Linked DNA regions of Homo sapiens. The protein of the gene in region 2 purifies or fractionates together with the protein of the main gene of each other region. This does not show direct contact. Each region holds a gene or a part of one and is shown on either strand. Other genes may lie near its edges.

Region 1 (7,334 bases), on a different chromosome or scaffold from region 2:
TATTTTTAGGAATTAAGTTCTAGCTACTAATACAGGACATATCATTCCAACAAATTTGGAATGATAGTTGACAGATTGGGAGTTTTTCACTCCTTCCTTTTTGTGAGAGTCCAAGATAGATAGCAAGGGATGAATGAGAGTAGATTAAGTAGTTGTTTTCATCTTTGTCACCCAGTTGTTAGTGTAATGATGTAAGCCCAGGAATACAAACAAGAAAAAAAATAAGATATTGGGCAAGTGTAGACAGAAAGGCCGAGAGAGATGACTAGTGTCAGAAAAAAAAGTGAAAAAGATAAGTAGAAGAGACACTTTGCAGGGGGACATTGATTTTTTTCATGTAAAGTATATCGTTGCATTTTATACAAAATCTAAAAAACTGATATTTAGACCGACTAACAATTTGGTTATAGTCTCAGTTTTGCTAACCTTTAAAGTAGTGTATCAGGACTGGGTATTTCTCAGAGATGGATAATTCAGTAGGCCTCTATCTGTATATGCTCATAAAAGTTTCTGACTTGTGACAATTGGTGGATATAGAAAGGTCTAAATTCGAGAGATGGTAAGAGTATATAAGAACTGAAAGTAACTTTATTTTTCATACAGCTCTTGGTACTTAAGTATGTACAGAACAAAGATGTTTTTATGAGGTATCATAAAGCTCATTTGACACGACGTCTTATATTAGACATCTCTGCCGATAGTGAAATTGAAGAAAACATGGTAGAGTGGCTAAGAGTAAGTAAATTTTTTTAAATATTTGGTTTTCTAATACATTACATCATTTATATGTGTGCTTAAGTAATACATTTTGGAGATATTGTTAATGTCAAAGAAGTAGGAAACATTTTATAAGAATATAGCGTCAGTTAGGCCGGGCGCACTGGCTCATACCTGTAATCCCAGCACTTTGGGAGGCCGAGGCAGGTGGATCACCTGAAGTCAGGAGTTCAAGACTAGCCTGACCAACATGGCAAAACCGCGTCTCTACTAAAAATACAAAAATTAGCTGGATGTGCTGGTGCACTCCGGTAATTCCAGCTGCTTGGGAGGCTGAGGCAAGAGAATCACTTGAACCCAGGAGGTGGAGGTTGCAGTGAGCCAAGATCGTGCCATTGCACTCCAGCCTGGGTAACAGAGTGGGACTCCATTTCAAAAAAAAAAGAATATACCATCAATTATATAAAATAAAGTGATATCTAATAAATGTTCTTAATACTTTCAGTAAAGTATCTTTGTTCTTGAGTTGTTTCTACTGTTTCACTCCCATTTGTACCTCAACTCTCATTTAAACTGACCTTATTAATAAATAGACTACAGGGGCTGGGCACGGTGGCTCACACCTATAATCCCAGCACTTTGGGAGGCCAAGGCAGGTGGATCACAAGGTCAGGAGATCGAGACCATCCTGGCTAACACAGTGAAACCCAGTCTCTATTAAAAATACAAAAAAATTAACGAGGCGTGGTGGTGGGGGGCCTGTAGTCCCAGCTACTTGGGAGGCTGAGGCAGGAGAATGGCATGAACCCTGGGGGGCGGAGCTTGCAGTGAGCTGAAATCGAGCCACTGAACTCCAGCCTGGGTGACAGAGCAAGACTCCATCTCAAGAAAAATAAAATAAATAAATAGACTGCAGGACAAATTATTATATCTTTAAGGTATTTTCAGTACTAAATGCTTAACTTTAGAGATGTTTATAAATGATAACAATAAATACTTCTGTATAGCAAAAAGAACCTTTAAATGATGGCCTATTTAGGGTAATCAATGCTGATTATAACTAAATTCCCATATAAAGTATTTTGAGTTCTTTTTTTGTTTTAATTATTAAAGTAAATATCTTTAATTTCTGTGTATGTATATAACTCTCTCCACATATATATGGAGAGAGAGAGAGTGCGAGCAAGCACACACGAGAGAGACCTACAGATATTTTAACTTATAGCTAGCCCTTCGCATGGAACTTTAGGATAGTAAAAATTACTGTGCTAACTGAAACTGCTTAGTAGGAAAAAGAATGATTATTCTGTGACTTTTTAAAACTATTGTCAAAAGACTCAAAACTCTTACTGTCACTTATAAGTATATAGGAAAAAGGGGAAAATAGCAAAACTAATACATATTTACTACGAGAAACCTTTAGAATTAAATTTTCTTTCTTTCTTTCTTTTTTTCTTTTTTTTGGAGATGTAGTCTTGCTGTGTTACCCAGGCTGGATTGCAGTGGTGCAATCTTGACTCACTGAAACCTCTGTCTCCCAGATTCAAGCAATTCTCCTGTCTCAGCCTCCTAAGTAGCTGGGACTACAGGTTTGTGCCATGACGCCTGGCTAATTTTTGTATTTTTAGTAGAGACACGGTTTTGCATGTTGGCCAGGCTGGTCTTGAAATCCTGGTCTTAAGTGATCCGCCTGCCTCGGCCTCCCAAAGTACTGAGATTACAGGCGTGAGCCACCACACCCGGCCTATGTTATTTCTTTGTTAAAAAAAAAATATCAAGACCCAACAGTAAAATGACAAACAAGGCTAGGCATGGTGGCTCACACCTGTAATCCCAGCACTTTGGGAGGCTGAGGAGGGCAGATGGCTTGTGCTCAGAGTTTGAGATGAGCCTGGGCAACGTGGTGAAACCCCATCTCTACAAAAATTTAAAAAATTAGCTGGGTGTGATGGCATGCACCTTAGTCCCAGCTGCTTGGGAGGCTGAGGTGGGAGGATCGCCTGAGCCTGTGAGGTGGAGGTTGCATTGAACAGAGATCTTACCACTGTACTCCTGCCTGAGCAACAGAGTCAGATCCTGTCTCTCTCACTCACACACACACACACACACACACACACACACACACACGACAAATAATTAAAAGCAGGCAAAGGATTCGAATTGACATCTCTTCACAGAAGATAGACAGATGGCCAATAAGTGCATGCAAAGATACTCAACATCATTAGTCATTAGTGAAATGCAAGTGAAATGCTCAACATGTTGGCTCCTGCTTATCCCAAATATTTTGAAAGGCTGAGGTGGGAGGATTGCATGAAGCCAGGAGTTAGAAACTACCCTGGGCAAAATAACAATACTCCATGTCTACAAAAAATACAGAAATCAGCTAGGCATGGTGATGTGTGCCTGTGGTTCTAGCTACTCAGGAGGCTGAGATGGGATGATTGCTTGAGCCCAGAAGTTCAAAGTTGTAATGAGCTGAGATTGTGCCACTGCACTGCAGCCTGGGCAACAGAGTGAGACCCTTTCTCAAAAACAAAAAAAACACAAAGAGATACTACTTTATTCCCACTAGGGTAGCTAAAATAAAGACAGATGATAACAAATGCTAGTAAGGAAGAGGAGAAATTGGAACCTTCGTAAGTTGCTAGTGGAGACATAAGATGGTGCAGACACTTTGGAAAACTGTTGGGCAGTTCCTTAAAATGTTGAACGTAGAGCTGACCCAGCAATTTCACTCTTAGGTAATTCATTTGAAGAGAAATGAAAACATGTTTCATGTAAAAACTTGTAAACAAATGTTCATGGCAAGATTACTAATAATAGTCAAAAAGTGGAAACAACCCAAAATGTCAGTGAGCTAATGAATAAAATGTGATTTATCCATACAATGGAATATTTTTTGTGATAAAAAGGAATAAACTAATAATACATGCTGCAATATTAGGTGAACTTTGAAAACATAATGCTGAGTGAAAGAAGCCAATCCCAAAGACCATATCGTATGATTCCACTAATGTGAAGTGTCCAGAATAGGCAAATCCACAAATTCCAGGAGTTGGGGCCAGGAGGGGAAATGACGAGTGACTGTAAATAGTATGGGGTTTCTTTTTGGGGTGATGAAAATGTTCTAAAATTAGATAGTGGTGATGGTTGCACAGTTCTGTAGATATACTAAACTTCATTACACTGTATATTTTATTTTTATTTTTATTTTTTATATTTTTTTGAGACAGAGTCTCACTTTGTTGCCCAGGCTGGAGTGCAGTGGTGCGATCTTGGCTCACTGCAACTTCTGCCACCCAGGTTCAAGCGATTTTCCTGCCTCAGCCTCCTGAGTAGCTGGGATTACAGGCGCATGCCACCATGCCCAGCTAATTTTTGTATTTTTAGCAGAGATGGGTTTCACCATGTTAGCCAGGCTGGTCTTGAACTCCTGACCTCAGGTGATCCACCCGCCTCAGCCTCCCAAAGTGCTGGGATTACAGGCATGAGCCCAGCCAAATTGTATACTTTAAAATAGTAGATTTTATGGTAGATAAATTATCTGACACAGTAAAGCTGTTAATAAAGAGTAGTTTGAATAGCTTTTGCCTTCTTGTGTAACTTGACAGAGTAAGCATCTTTTCTTTGCCTTGGAGAGTTGTCACACCCCCTGTAATTTGGATGATCTTCTAGCATTTTATCTTTTGGGCTGTCAGTGTCATGAAATACTGAGAATTCCTTTATAGCATTTTTGCCAGGATCACTTCTTCTAGGGTATCTTATCTTTTTTGTCACTCACCACTTTTATCTTTTATGTTGGTAATTTGCTTTCACTAAGTTCCTCAACACTGGCATTGTCAGCCTTACTACCACAGTCAGCTTTCTTCTATAACTCCATTTATGTTCTATTTTATTTTCATTTCCAGCATTATCACTTTTCATTTCCTGTTTACTTTTATATCTTTGCCAATTATCTTGTTTGATTATTCTTTTTTGTAAGTAGTCATGTGGGTTTATTACTGGAAGACAAGGATGCAATGAAACTGCATACTTTGCTGTCTGCAGTTTAACTGAATAAACAAATGACTAATAGGTTGTGTTTACATTTTTTAAAAATTTATTTATTTAATTTTTTCAAGCAACAGGATCTTCTGTTGCCCAGGCTGGAGCGCAGTGACACAATCAGAGCTTAAACTCCTGGGCTCAAGCAATCCACCCACCTCAGCCTTCCGAGTAGCTGGGACTATCTCGGCAGTATGCCGCCATATCCTGCTAACTTTTAAAATTTTTTTGTAGTGATGGGGGTGTCACTGTGTTGCCCAGGCTGGTCTTAAAATCCTGGCTTCAAGTGATCCTCCTGCTTCAGCCTCCCAAAGTGCTAGGATTACACACCATGCCAACTAATAGATTTTGAAAGAAGTATTGTGGTTAGTCATTGTTACTTTTGTCATGATTTGTGGATCAAAGAGCTAGAAATAAAGTTTTTACTTCATGCAGTTAAATTTATTATATAGTGTCAACTGAAAGTTGAGCTTTGTTCTTGGGGAATTGGTATTATTTAACTGTACTGTGGTAACTGAAATTCATACATACTAAAAATGCGCAAAGCAGGGACCCCTTGTAATACCGTATTTTGTTTCTAAGTAGCAAATTTCATAGGTATTAGACAATAAAATTCTAATAAATGAGAAAAATTTTGTATTAAAACATTTAAGACTTAGTTTTTCTATTAAAATTTTTCCCAGTAATATATCAGATTATGTATTTATTACCTCTTCCTTCTTTGGTTTATATTTATAGGAAGTTGGTATGCCAGCGGATTATGTAAACAAGCTTGCTAGAATGTTTCAGGACATAAAAGTATCTGAAGATTTGAACCAAGCTTTTAAGGAAATGCACAAAAATAATAAATTGGCATTACCAGGTATTATTTTATAATTACATGTATATATTTTTTAAACTTAGAAGAATATCTTTGTTTTCCAGTAAATTAAAAATAAACCTCAGCAGTAATAGATCGAAAGATGTTATGAAGTCCATTTCCGTGGAGACAGCTATCAAAGCAGTGTGTTAGATTTACAGATCTTTATTTCAAAACAAAAGGACACTTTTAACAAAATCTTTATAGTCTTATTGATTTTTCACCCAAAGTTACCCTGTATTTATTTTGAATTTTATCCATTGTTAATTTACTTTATATTCCTGATATTCTTCTCTATAGCTGATTCAGTTAATATAAAAATTCTGAATGCTGGCGCCTGGTCAAGAAGTTCTGAGAAAGTCTTTGTCTCACTTCCTACTGAACTGGAGGACTTGATACCGGAAGTAGAAGAATTCTACAAAAAAAATCATAGTGGTAGAAAATTACATTGGCATCATCTCATGTCAAATGGAATTGTAAGTAGATAGTGTGTTAGTTATTTCAGCTTTCAGTTTGGATGAAAGTAGCAGGACTCCGCAGAATTGCTTAAACAAAATAGATTTTTGCCTCTCTCACATGTAAAAGTTTGAGCAGAAATAGTGAATTTTTTTCATGAAGTTGATAGGGACATAGGCTTCTGGTTATACCATCATACTTAAGATACTGCCGTTGTCTACAGAATTCAACATGATCCCAACTATCTCAGTATTCCTGGCAACAGAAAGCAAAAGGTGAGGGTAGCTTACACCTTTCATTAGGGACAACTTCTAGAAGTTTCCTCTGTCATTTTCCATTTGCATCCGCCAGTACTCAGTCACTTGGCCACATTTTGTTACATGGAAAGCTGGGAGATGAGCGTGTATTCTGGGCAGTCATTAACGTCTTCTAAAATGTTTATTACTGTGAAAGAGTGGATACTGGAAGACAGCAACCTTTTTCATATATAAATTCATGTCATAGATATTAAGAGAGAATCATCATGAGATTCTTTATTAAAAATCTGTTTTATCTATTATAGATAACATTTAAGAATGAAGTTGGTCAATATGATTTGGAGGTAACCACGTTTCAGCTCGCTGTATTGTTTGCATGGAACCAAAGACCCAGAGAGAAAATCAGCTTTGAAAATCTTAAGCTTGCAACTGAACTCCCTGATGCTGAACTTAGGAGGACTTTATGGGTTGGTTTATGTTTTTTTGTTTTTAAGACTGTATCCTCTCATGTAGCAGGAAATATATGATTGGCTTGTAATATATTAGTAAATTCATAACAGTTTCAGAATGTCTTATCAAGAAAAATAGAGGCCGGGCACAGTGGATCACGCCTGTAATCCCAGCACTTTGGAAGGCCGAGGTGGGCAGATCACTTGAGGTCAGGAGTTCGAGACCAGCCTAGCCAACATAGTGAAACCCCATCTCTACTAAAAATACAAAAATTAGCTGGGCGTGGTGGTGGGCGCCTGTAATCCCAGCTACTTGGGAGGCTGAGGCAGGAGAATCGCTTGAATTCAGGAGGTAGAGGTTGCAGTGAGCCAAGATTGCGCCACTACACTCCAGCCCAGGCAACAGAGTGAGAACTCCGTCTGAAAAAAAAAAAAAATTATGCACACACACACACACACGAGATATTTATGGAAAAAATAAATTGCAAATAGGCAAGTTACCAAGGCAGAGAAAAGTGCTTCAAAAAAAAGGAGAGGCTGGGGCAGTGG
Region 2 (7,433 bases):
AAAAAAAAAAAATTAGGGCTGGGCGTGGTAGCTCACGCCTGTAATCCCTGCACTTTGAGAGGCCAAGGCGGGCAGATCACGAGGTCAGGAGATCGAGATCATCCTGGCTAACACGGTGAAACCCCATCTCTACTAAAAATACAAAAAAAAAAAAAAAATTAGCCGGGCATGGTGGCGGGCACGTGTAGTCCCAGCTACTCGGGAGGCTGAGGCGGGAGAATGGCGTGAACCCAGGAGGCGTAGCTTGCAGGAAGCCAAGACTGCGCCACTGCACTCCAGCCTGGGCCACAGAGCGAGACGGTCTCAAAAAGAAAAAAAAAAATACAAGACAGCAGTGGGCACACTAAAAACCATAACCCCATGAGCTCCACCTAAGAGGTGTTCGTTGTTTTCCACATTTCCCATTTGGCCTTTTGAAAAATGCTCCTTGAAGGCCGAAGCACTGAAACCCTCGCCTCCTGGGCTCGCAGCGCCACCTGGTCTGAGGTCTTACCTGCCGCCCCTCTAACTCAATCTGGAAGTTCTTGGCGGACTCCTGGGTCACCCGCCCCCCGAAGTCCAGCTGGTAGACCTGGGTGGCCTCGTTCCACAGCGGCTGCTTGTTGGCCATCACGTACACGAAGCCTTGGCTGCCCAGCCGCCCGTCCTCCTTCTCACTGGCCCGCCGGCACTTGGCCTCCTCCAGCTCGCCGGCGGCCCGTGGGGAGCGCTTGCTTTTCCAGCCCTTTCTGCTGCCCTGGCTCTGGTTCATGAGCTCATCCCCGCTGATGAACAGCTCAGGCTCGCTCTCGGAGCTGTCCTGGAACTCGTTTGTCTTATTCAACTTCTTTGACTTCAGTTGGTCTTTCTGACTCTTCACTTTCTTCTTCTCTCTCCCCAGGTGTGGGCTGGAGATTAGGGAATTAAAGTCACTCAAAGTCCTAGCCTCCTTCTTCACTTTGCCCTCAGTGATGGCCTGAACGCTGCCTTCTTCTGCTCGGCTGTCCAGGCGCTTCCGGTTCTTCTTTCCAAATTTTTCTGTCCGCTGGGGGACTGGGCTTTCGGTCAGGGAGAGGACTTCCTGGAAGTTGTCTGCAGTCTCTACCATCACCTCTGTGCCCAAGTGGCTTTGGAGGTCGGCAGGTGGTGGGGACACAAGGGGCTTCTCCACCACCAAGTGTGGCTTTGGGGGGAGAGTGCCCTGGGGGTTCTGCATGGGCGGGCAGGCGCTGTAGGAACTCCATGGATGCAAGGCGACAGGTGGCAGCTGTAAACTAGAGCACGTGCTGCTTCCTGGGTACATGGGGGGCAGGGTGCAATAGGAGAGGCTGGGTGGGTACAGCGGCTGAAGGACCACAGCAGGCTCCTGTTGTGCAAACTGCGTTGGGGACAGGGCATCTTTGGGAGAGCAGGGAGCCTGCACTCCAGGCAAAGGGGGGTTGTTATAGCTTCCTGGATATGGCACTCCCATCCCATAGCCTGTTTGGAAAGTGGCAGTGGGGCTGGCAGGAGACTTGGGGGAGATGAAGGGCAGTCGGGACACGTCCAGGTGCTGGCCCTGACTCAGCATCAGAGAGGACAGTTTTAAGGGGTTGGGCCCTGAAGTCTGTGCTGTCCTTTCTTGAGGAACCCAAACATCCTCACCCAGCATGGGGTCCCACTGGTAAGGGGGTGGCCGTTTCAGGGTGACAGCAGCTTCAGGCAGGGGAGGGTGCCTCAAGGGCTTCTCAAGCTGACAGTGCTGGGACAGGGCCTCGTCCTCCGTGAAGGCCGAGTTGACGTAGTCGGTGCGGTCGCGGGCGCTGTCGGGTGGGCTCAGGAGGCTGTAGGAGGACTGGGAGGCCAACGGGGAGGCGCTGGCGGTATGGGCCAGGGAGGCTCCGGGCTGTGAGCTGGGCCCTGTGCCACTGCACTGACTGCAGGTGTACAGGGCAGGTGGGGGCCGCGCTGGGAGCTGTGTCACCACCCCCCCGGGCCCGCCCTTGGACTTGGCCAGGGGCTGCAGGGGGGCCCGCGGGCTGTCGGCCAGCTGGGCCATCTTGAGCGTAGCCTCACGGTTGTTCCTCCGCAGGGTAGCGTGGATGAGGCTATTGTCGGACCTCTGGGCAGCCCCCCGCCCCTGGGCCAGCTGGCTGGCAATTTCAGGATACGGGGGTGGGTCCCCGGTGGGGATGGAGTAGCGAGGGACGGTCAGGCGGTTCAGGGTGGCACTGCTGCAGGGCTGAGGGACCTTCTTCTCAGTGGCCGTGAGCCTCAAGGTGGCAGAGCTACCCGGGCCGGGGAGGGTGTACGTGTTCTGGGAGCACAGCATCCGGGTGCGGGGCCGGCACACCTCCTCCACGTTGCCACTGCTGTCGAAGGTGGTGATCCTCTCATAGCCCAGGGGGGTCTGGTAGTGCACTGACGTGGGGTAGAGGGAGAAGTCGCCCTTCTTCAAGCACACATCCACTGGGGGCTGTGGGGGCGGCAGAGGGGGCGGGGGTGCTGCTGTGGTGGGGGCAGCGGGGATGGTTCCTGGGTACGGGGGTGGAGGGTTTATCTTCGTCACCTGGACCTCCTGGGGGGCACTAAAGACCACTGCGTCCCCCTCAGCTGCCAGCTGCGGTGTTGGCCGCAGGGCCTTGGCTGACTTCTGCAGGTGTTCGTGGTCTCGGTCTCCATGGCCCACCGTGGACAGCTGCATGGGCCCCTGCGGCGGGGGAGGCAGGGACAGTGGAGGGGGGTTCTGAATGATGCGGCCCATTTCCACGCTTCCGAAAATCACCTGTCCAGGATTGGAGTACCGGTTGGAGACTGGGTACTGGGTGGCACTGTCACCTGCATGTTCTGCTGTCCCTACAGCTGTCGTCTGGTTGGTCAGGACATCTAGCTGCACATTCTGATTGGCCAGTAGGGACTGCACCAGCCCTATGCTCTGCGTGGGGGACATAGCCTGAGCCGAGCTGTGGATCGGTGCAATAGGGATGTTCACGGTACAAGGTGGGCTGTTCTCAGGGACACCAGATGCTCCTGTCACTGGAAGAAAATTAGAAAAAGGAACTGCTTACAAAAACACTGCCATTAAACCAGATCAGGATAAGCAATACGTCTGGACTCATCCAGTCTCCTTCTGTAAACAAAATGCAAATTGCCAGAGACAGAGACGTGTCTGCTTGGGGAAAGCTGGCCTGCTCGCACAAGGGAGATGGGTTCTTGAGGGCAGCCTGCTGCTGTCTGTTAGCTAAGGGTACTGTCAGAACTTTTCGACTAACTCACTTTTGAACCTTCTAAACTTGGCACCAGTGCCTCAATGGCACCATCACAGATAATTAAATGTCTGAAGAAGCTTTTTACTGGTGATATTCATAAAATACCCACCCTTTTATGCAAGAAGAGGGCAATGGTACAGGAAAAACCTCCATTGAGGACTTGCAGTGCCTAGGCCTCTGAATAGGTCTATTCATGATTATGGGATGGATAGTGTGGAAAGTGTCATGCAACAGATGTGTATAAGAAATGTATGCACATTAGGTTTCTGTAAATAGAACCATGTAAAATGTGGTAGAAAAAACAATGAAAAGAATCTTCTAGTGAATCTGAGTATCATATGAAGGATCATTTCCTAATTTTTTTTTTTTTAAGACAGAGTCTTGCTCTGTTGCCCAGGCGTGCAGTAGCAGGAGTTCAGCTCACTGCAACCTCCACCTCCTGGGTTCAAGTGATTCTCCTGCGTTCAAGTGATTCTCCTGCCTCAGCCTCCCCAGTAGCTGGGACTGCAGGTGAGCGCCACCACACCCAGCTATGTATTTTTAGTAGATATGGGGTTTTGCCATGTTGGCCAGGCTGGTCCCCAACTCCTGACCTCAGGTGATCCACCCACCTCGCCTCCCAAAGGGCTGGGATTACAGGTGTGAGCCACCCTGCCTGGCCTTTATCTGCTTTTTAGCATTTCAAACAGTATGTAAGGTAGAGCCATGCTGAATTAAACCCTATAAATATATCCTATTTGTACACAGTGAGAGTTTAACAGAGCGTGCGTGCATTTGAACAGCGATCTACAGACAGGTGCTCAGAGCCACTGTCTGCACCACCCTGTTTAAAGTGCCCACTGAGCACTCTGCAGTTGGCTCCTCTAGGCCCACTGTGCTACCCTGTGGCTTTTCCCTTAGAGAAAACTGCCACTGATCCAGAAATCTGAGGCATGGTGTAAGTACCGTGTGGCAGCTAGTCCATGATTAGGAAATGTGACACTGGCTGACTTCTCATCAAAAGAACTACAGAATCAAGCCAGCTAGTTTATCAAAAGCTAAGCTGGCCCTTCCTTGGGGTGTCCTAGTAAGACATAACTCTCCCCTGGCCACACAAATTTGGGTCTGTCTCAGGTTTCCTATGATTCCTGTTCAGATCCCTCTTGGAGAAGCTCTCTCGTCTGTATGAAACACTGATGGCAGGCATCTTCCCCTTTAAGGAAGAAGAGCCTCTTCACTGAGTCACCATCATTAAATGTAATCCCTGAGACAATATGTTCCCTCCTCTCATTGAGAACCACAGACAATAACGACAACTGCAGCAACAGCTGAACCTTGGAGAGGGCTGTATTCCTCGCATTTTGGGAGAACAGGGAAAGCGTTAAGGGGAAAGTTTAAAAGATACTTCTAATTCCAAGATTCTGAAGTAGAAGGGGATGCACTAGAAAGCTCAGGTATGGGAGGCTTCACCAAACTACAGGTATTTATGTGGCTGTAAGCTTGGCCTATTAGGACCACATAAGCCTAGGAGATTTGCTCACCCATGCAGGAGAGGTCACCAACAGAGAAGCAAGATGGCTATTGTTGGAAAGTGCAGTATAAATCATTTTTTTTTCTTTTTTCAGTTAAAAAGACTGGGCTGAGAGAAGGTAAACAACTCTCTCAAGTTCAGAGCCAAGCTGAGGAGGAGGGCCCAAGCTGAAATGGGTGGCCCTCTATGTCCACTGCAAGAACCAGTCCCTCTGGTCACAGACATCCAGATACTGGAGAAGTCACGGTCCATGTCTGGGTTCCTCTAGCTCAGAAACAAGAGACTTCCAGAGCCCACTTAGTTGGAAGTAGAGGAGTCTGTGTATCTATAAAATCTCAGGTGGCCTTTTACTTAGAAAAGCAAGTTATTTTCAAGTACCCTCTAGTGAAATAGTTACACACAACTAACTGGCCAGACTAATTGGAAGTCATTGTAATCTATTAATCAAAATAGGATCCTTTAAGAATCCCCCCACTGGGAAACACATTAACTTAAGATGCTATGGATATTGATATTTACCATTTGAAAACTGGAATTTAAAAACTGTTTACCAGATTTTATCTTGAACTCAGACCAGGCCCCTGTGCACTGAGACATGCGGTTGCGGTGGAAGAGAGGTAGTTCCAGGTAAAGGCTTTTGCGTCCTGGACACGGCAGATTTGAGAAACTGGGCTCTGTGCGCACCACGGGAATGCTGGAGTGAGACACTATCTCAGCAGGGACTGAAAGGATGAAAGCTGGCCTAGATCAATGAGATTGAGTCTCAGTTCTGATTTTATTTAGTCCCAATCAGTCCTGCAAACTTATCTGAATCCAGACACAAGACTAAGAGGATAGCTGTGAGGATAAAGCCAGATGTTAGAACTGTGCTCCGAAAACACAAGGCGCCGCTGCTACTGGAACCATCTGTGCTCCAGCAGCTCCCCTCCTGCCAACACTGGTGCCAACCTGTGACTTTTCCCCTGGGACACAACATCACATCTACCAACCTTACTGAGGCAGGGATACCTTTTCCAAACCCAGGTAGCAGACTGAAATCCTCAACAACTTGCCGCTCTGTCCCCCTTGCATGATCTACTGACAGAGGGACCGTGACAAACACGTTGATGTATGTGAACACACCTGGTAAATCATCTTCATCTTCACTGAAAACATTTGGGTTGAAGACAGGTAAATTAATATAGTCCATGGAAATTTTCCGAACTTCTGGGAGATAAATGGTCATCTGCCGCGGCTGGAGATGCAGGAGGCTGGTTTTATAGATTACTGGTGGGGAAAAAGAAGGGCACAGTTAACAGAGACACACCAGAGCAGAGCCAAAGTGTCAAGAGAGTCACAGGAAGAAGAGCGCACTGCAGTTTCCCTGCCATCAGAAGACAGATCTGTGTAGGCAGGGCCCAGAGGCTGAGAGGAGCTCTTCATTTCTCCCTAGTACTCAATGCGACCATACTAGCCACAGTTCTGGATTCAGTAACAGCAGATTCCCGGTCTAGCTTGGCCTCCTTGCCAATGGTTTGTCTACAGAACTACAAATTTCAAATGTTAAAAACATTTTAGACACAAATCATTTCTTTTGGAATAAGCTAGGGTATAAAAACATATTTTTTAAAAACCTCATTTGCAGTCAGAAGGATGATTGAATGGAAATAGTTGTGACAACCAGACTGCCAAACAAGGGAAGCTTGGGCAACCAAGAAACTGTGTGAAAGCAATGTTGAGATGGGGGTGGCATGGTTTCATGTAGGAATAAAACATAGCCTTCATTTCGGCTGGAACCTTGGTTTACTGGCTTTCAATTTTAATCTAACCATCAGGATAGAGATTTATAGGGAATTTCCACACAGTTGTTTTTTTAAAACCTCAAGATTTAATTTGATTAACAGGGACATGTAGGAGAAGGCCTAGATTGCAACTAAAATATTTAGAGGAGACAAAATAAGTTTAAATATAATGAATCTGAATTTAAGTTTCACAGTAGTTAAAGTCGGGGTGAAACTGCCCTGTGAACTTGCTTTTGTGTTCAATAGTCTCTCCTGTGAGACAGGTAGCACAAAGCTTCTTTATTCTAGCTCCATGGCGGTCACCTTAACACTTAGCGGCTGACCTGCAGCATGACTGCGGCACAGCAGGCCTCCTTTGTCGAAGCATCTTTGCGGGGCTGGCCCATGGACTGGTATGGGTTAAGGTAACTTCTCCTGCCCAATAGCAGGAAAGGCCCTAGGCATGTGTTTCTCTCTCTTGTCCACAAAGGAAAGATAATATGAATTTTGGTTTAAAAATACTGTGTGGTTCCATATGACTTAAGAATGAATGTATTAAAGTGTTATTCTTTGTTGTTCACATTGACAAAGCAATTTTTAAAAAAATTCTAGGAGGGATTAGAAAAATACCATCAGTTACCTCCAGGAAAGAAAAGTAGGTGGCTGATGGTGAGAATGACAGAGATTTTTACTATAGACCCCTCTGAATGCTTTGAATTTTGTAGAATCTACTGTGTATTGTTAAAATGCCAAAAATTCAAAATAAAAAAATTTCATGGGCCAGATCATTCTAATTAAAGAAAACAAATTATCCAACCTGGGGAACAGCACTCACTTTTTAAGTTCACTAGAGTGCCATATACTGTCTTTGAAAAGATTATTTAATGGGGTACCACATATAACATACCTTCTAGTATTCAATAGTTAATTTCTGTT

Evidence for each region. Proteins that work in one complex are often made in the same cells at the same time.
Region 1: the proteins of TULP4 (region 2) and CUL5 purify together in Homo sapiens (affinity purification with mass spectrometry; 5 studies listed by BioGRID and IntAct, with this or other methods). This does not show direct contact.

Annotation. Positions count from the first base shown.
Region 1 is NC_000011.10:108,088,889-108,096,222, forward strand, and holds part of CUL5 (cullin-5), read left to right. Parts: intron 1-603; coding exon 604-735; intron 736-5,502; coding exon 5,503-5,626; intron 5,627-5,923; coding exon 5,924-6,099; intron 6,100-6,641; coding exon 6,642-6,803; intron 6,804-7,334. UniProt on the Homo sapiens protein: Core component of multiple cullin-5-RING E3 ubiquitin-protein ligase complexes (ECS complexes, also named CRL5 complexes), which mediate the ubiquitination and subsequent proteasomal degradation of target proteins.
Region 2 is NC_000006.12:158,497,239-158,504,671, reverse strand, and holds part of TULP4 (tubby-related protein 4), read right to left. Parts: intron 6,004-7,433; coding exon 5,860-6,003; intron 2,995-5,859; coding exon 494-2,994; intron 1-493. UniProt on the Homo sapiens protein: May be a substrate-recognition component of a SCF-like ECS (Elongin-Cullin-SOCS-box protein) E3 ubiquitin ligase complex which mediates the ubiquitination and subsequent proteasomal degradation of target proteins.